2 linked regions of the Homo sapiens genome follow. The protein of the gene in region 2 purifies or fractionates together with the protein of the main gene of each other region. This does not show direct contact. Each region holds a gene or a part of one and is shown on either strand. Other genes may lie near its edges. The genes, in order: EHD3 and SCP2D1.

The links.
Region 1: the proteins of SCP2D1 (region 2) and EHD3 purify together in Homo sapiens (affinity purification with mass spectrometry; one large-scale study listed by BioGRID and IntAct). This does not show direct contact.

The regions. Positions count from the first base shown.
Region 1 is NC_000002.12:31,267,466-31,270,195, forward strand, and holds the end of EHD3 (EH domain-containing protein 3), read left to right. Parts: 3' UTR 1-1,986; downstream 1,987-2,730. UniProt on the Homo sapiens protein: ATP- and membrane-binding protein that controls membrane reorganization/tubulation upon ATP hydrolysis. In vitro causes tubulation of endocytic membranes. Binding to phosphatidic acid induces its membrane tubulation activity.
Region 2 is NC_000020.11:18,812,387-18,815,083, forward strand, and holds SCP2D1 (SCP2 sterol-binding domain-containing protein 1), read left to right. Parts: upstream 1-1,396; 5' UTR 1,397-1,429; coding exon 1,430-1,900; 3' UTR 1,901-1,992; downstream 1,993-2,697.

The sequences.
Region 1 (2,730 bases), on a different chromosome or scaffold from region 2:
TTTAGATGTTCATACTTGACTCACATTTACCCAGCCCCTCCTGCGTACCAGGAGCTGTGTTAGGCACTTTATATACATTATTCTATGTGGCCCTCACTGATGCCCCAGGGAAGTATGCATTAGCCTTCCCATTTTGCAGTTGAGGAGGCTGAGTAGCCTCAGAAGGGTTTAGGCGACCTTCTGAAACTCACAGAAGTCACGTGATGGAGAGAGGATTCAAAGCCAGGGCCTCAGACCCTCACACACTTGTCTGTGCTATGATGTATGCAGGATCCCAGCATTGATACCCAATGACAAACTATGGAGAACAAGCAAAGTATGCAGGCCCCCTGCAGCCTCCCAGGACAGGCTGGCAAGGGAGGAGGGCCGGCCAGCATTTGGTGGCCCATCAGTCTGGCCATCTGTCACGTCACAGAAGCAAACCGTGCCTTCTGGCTCTGCGCCCCATATTCCCAGCATCATAGACATCCAACAGCACCAGCAGGAGAGTGGGCTAGCCTGCTGGATGCTGTTCGTGCCTGTCCCTGCTCTGCCTCCCACCCAGTTGCCTGAATCATCCCAGCTCAGATGCAGCCACTGTCTCTTGTCAAGTGGGACCTCATACTATTCTCAGAAGGCTAACTTGAGAGGTTTGGGGCCTTGTTCCCCAGAGGGTCCCCAGGGACTCTGCAGTGTCCTTGGCAAATCCCCACTGTACTCAATGCCCTACATTCTCTTCTGTGGTCTCTCCCCTGGCTTGCTTCATGGCCACTGAACCAATCACTTTGTATGCTATGCTCCTACTGTGATGGAAAACAAAATGAGTATAACTTATTTTATATCCATATTCAGACTATATAGAGAATATTCTATGCATCTATGACGTGCTTACTACTGCAGTGCATTTGTCATTAGTCTTCATGTTAATACAGTACATTTATTCTTTGGTACCTGCCTGGCCACAGAGCATCATTCAATGGAGGCTGAGGGAGAAGGGCTGGGTTCTTACTTGGAGTTCCTGGTGAAATCTTTGGCTGGAAAGGGCTCACTGGGGCCACCCAATGGCCAGCATCCACAACCAGCTTCCCAGTGGGCTGGAGTTTGTCTAGGCTCAGTGACCAACCCAGGCACAGCTGGTGGAGCCACCGCTCCCTGCTCCTCTGGAGTGAAGATGTTCCCTAAGCCCCTGGGCTTCCTTCTGCAAATACACATTTCTCTTTCACATGAAATGAAGGGCAGACAAAGGCCAGGCAAAGAGGTCTCACCTGCTCTGGAGAAAACCCTTGAGTGCCGAGTGCAGGTTAGGGACCATTTCTCAACTCCACACCTTTCTTCAAGCTGAAGGAGAAATGGGAAGGAAATAGCAGAGGTAGGTGAAGTTCCTGTCTTTTTATTTTATAGGAAAGGGAGATGTCTGTTATCCCCTTTCTTCACTGCCACTGGACACACATGCCACTTTCCTGCCCTTCTACATATGCTGCCTCTCTTCCCTCTCTCCATCTTGAAGTCTCCACCCAGGAGAGACCTGTGAGGTGTGGGAATTCCATGTTTGCACAGCTCCCATCTCCCTGGAAAGAGGAACTGATGTTTGAGGGGACAGATGTGGGTCACTTTCCCTGGCAGTGCCCTCTAGCCTTGCTGCCTTGGCTTTCTGACCCCTTCCAGGCTTCAGGGGCCTGGGAGATCTCATGCCTCAGCCCAGGAAACATTTAATAGGGAAAGCAGAGACATGTCATGTCAGCCCCACAGACAAGAATTTCTAGAGCACTTGTCCTGTTGTTCCTTGCCCCGACATTACTCAGTCTGGGCCATGGAATCCATCCAATAAACACAGCAACACCCTATGCTACTGACCAAGCAAAGCTTGCCCCTGGTACCAAAGAGCTAAATCATGACCAAAGTGTGACATGAATGTAACTGAAATGCGGGTTAGTTGCTCAATGTATGCAAAGTCCCACGGACAAGAGTAAAGTCTGATACCAATAAAGTGAATGTATTCCAAAGCTAGCTTGGAGGAGGGGCACACAACGTCCTGCCTTTCAATGTGCCGCTTCCCCTTTGGAGCAGAAAGCAGGCACTTTTATAAGGTAAGGGAGCAAGTGAGCAAGGGTCCGCCTGATAGCATGGTGCCTTATCTACTGGACAGTTGAGTCGGGCCTTCCTGGGCAAAAATAAATTTTAAAAGTGGCCAAGTAGGCATACTTTAGATATAACCTCCTAGTGAATGAAAGTCCTGAGGCAGCCCCTGGAGGGTGGGAGTTCCAAGGCAACCCCTGGAGGTGAAAGCTCAAGGAGGGCATGTTTTGGTCTGCAAATTGGCAGTCAATTCTGGAGGACTATTTTGGAGCAGAGAGATGAACTTGCCCTGTAGGGAATGTCTAGTGAAGGGGAGATGAAAGCTTATATTTGCATTTCCCTTTTTTTGAGACAGTCTCACTCTGTCGCACAGGCTGGAGTGTAGTGGCATGATCCCAGCTCACTGCCACCTCTGCCTCCCAGGTTCAAGCCATTCTTGTGCCTCAGCCTCCCAAGTAGCTGGGACTACAGGTACTCCACCACCACGCCTGGCTAATTTTTTTTTTTTTTTTTTACTTTTAGTGAAAACAGGGTTTCACCATGTTGGCCAGGCTGGTCTTGAATTTCTGACCTCAAGTGATCTGTCCACCTCAGCCTCCCAAAGTGCTGGGATTACAGGCATAGGCGAGAGCCACTGCGCCAGGCCTATATTTGCATTTCTAAAGGGCTACCTAG
Region 2 (2,697 bases):
ACTGGCCAGTATTCAAGTGTCAAGGTAACGATAGACAAAGATTGAAGAGCTGCCCCAGACTGCAAGGCACTAGGGAGACCTGCAACCAAATAGATATGGTCTCACATGGTCTGTAGATTAGTTAGTAGTCATGAACCAATGTGAATTTCTCAGATTAGATCACTGTACTGTGATTATATAAGATGTTAGTTTTGGGGAAAGCTGGGAGAAGGTTAAACAGGTACTATTTTTGCAAACTTTTTATAAGACTGAAATTATTTCAGAATAAAAAGTAAAGAAATAAACAGGTGGACTTTGGAGTCATTCTGCCTCTCCTCAAATCTGGCTACACTACTTACTAACTGTGTGACATTGGGCAAGTTACTTCATTTCTCCCCTCAGTTTCCTTATATGTAAAATGGGGATAAAAAGAATACCTATCTGGGAGGCCGAGGTAGGTGGATCACTTTAGCCCAGGAGTTTGAGACCAACCTGGGCAGCATGGTGAAACCCCATTTCTACAAAAAGTACAAAGATTAGCCAGGTGTGGTGGCACACGCCGTATTCCCAGCTACTTGGGAGACTGAGGTGGGAGGATCAAATGAGCCCAGGAGGCAGAGGCTGCTGTGAGCAGAGATCGCGCCACTGTACTCCAGCCTGGGTGACAGAGCAAGACCTTGTCTCAAAAAAAAAAAAAAAAAAGAAAAAATACCTATCATAGAGGGTTGTAATGAGAGTTAAATGTGTTAATACATGTGTAGTACTTAGAACTCTGCACCTTGGCCCAGAGCAAGGGCTATACTATTACGTGTAATTATCAGAGGAGACTGGCAGCATCTTCTGATCTTAGGGACATTTAATCTCTCTGTGTGTGTCTCACTGTGCTTCTGGAAAGTTTCTGATGCAGGCTCCTGGACTGATTCCTTCTCCAATCAATTACTCTGGCCTAAAAGCATTTCCCTTTCTACCAGCAGCCAGATAAAGCCAAATTCAGCACTAGGATCTGTAGTATTAACTTAAGTATTACCCACTTAATGGGACTTAAGTGTTACCTAGTTTTAGAGGAATAAGAATAACTTCTGTCTCACGTTGGGTTTCACTGAGGAGATGTCTGCATTGGAAAGACAGAGCTCATGTCACTAAAGAAGCTTCTGGGGCCAGTTTCCCTTAACCCCATTGCAGCCTGCAGACCTTTTGGGCTTGCAGGACCAACATCCCTGATTGGTTTGGGAGGGGCGTGTGTGTGTGGATCTGCCTCACAATGGCCTGTCTGAGCCCTTATCTGAGGTCACACGTTATCATTTGTTTGGCCAATAAGACTGTAGCACACACACCAGCTTCAGTCCCCACTTGGCCTTACCTTTGATGTCACAATCTGACCTGTGGGTATTAATCTGGTCACAGCTGCTCACAGACTAGATGGCAAGGTCCAGGGGACTAGCACAGGAAGATGTGGAAGAGAAGTGACCATCAACCCAAGATCAAAGCAGAGGATGGACCTCTGGTGGGCCAGTTCGAGGTTCTGGGTTCAGTTCCAGAACCTGCCATGCCACATCCTCTAGAGCTGTCAGAATTTGAGAGCTTCCCAGTGTTTCAGGACATTAGGCTTCACATCAGGGAAGTGGGAGCTCAATTGGTCAAGAAAGTCAATGCCGTCTTTCAGCTGGACATCACCAAAAATGGGAAGACCATTTTGCGGTGGACCATTGATCTGAAGAATGGTTCTGGGGACATGTATCCGGGACCTGCCAGGCTCCCAGCAGACACTGTCTTTACAATCCCGGAGTCTGTCTTTATGGAGCTGGTTTTGGGCAAAATGAACCCGCAGAAGGCTTTCCTTGCCGGAAAGTTCAAAGTGAGTGGCAAGGTTCTGCTTAGCTGGAAGCTGGAAAGGGTTTTCAAAGACTGGGCTAAATTTTAAGCATGCAAAAATACCAAGGAAGAACTTCTCTTCGATGATAATGTCGAGTGGAAATCATGCTTAATCTGAAGATTAAAGTAAAAAGTATCCAATATTTTTACTCAAATTCTTCCTATTCAAGTTTAATTGATTTTCCTGTTGATGGGTAAATTTTCAGGGAGGGTTCTGAAGCAGTAAAAAGCGTTGTAGTGCATCAATTAGAATCTTTGTCTTTTTCTCTTTTTTTAGCTCCATTTATGCCCTTTATGCTCCATTTATGCCAGGGTGAGAGCCACGTGTAAAGAAATGGGTGATTATGATCATTGGAATTAAATACTCCAATGATTGTGTTCTTGAGACATTTTTCCTTTTCTAAAAAAGTTTGATGTTTTGGGGAAAGAAGTGATAACTATCATTGTGCAGGTGTGCATTCTGCATGGTAACTTGATTCCATGAGGAAACTTTACTATGAGACTGTGGGGTGCTAAGGGAATGGGGCACCACAGGTCTGTGGGTGGAACCCAGGCAATAGAGGGGATGGTGCTGTTGGTGTATTATAATTTCTGATGGTTTCAATTCCAAGAAACTTGAAGGGCTTGGGAGGTGTTCTAGGCCAGTGGTTCTTAACTGGAGCATGCATCAGAATCACCGGAAAGGTTGGTTAAAGTCTGGATTGCTGGGCTCCATCTCAGAGCTTCTACTCAGGAAATCTGGGCTGGAGAGAATGCACATTTCTAACAAGTTCCCAGGGGATGCTGATGGCACCACCCTTAGAGAATTCCAGCTCTGCTTCACTTCATGCCAAAGCTCTCAGTATT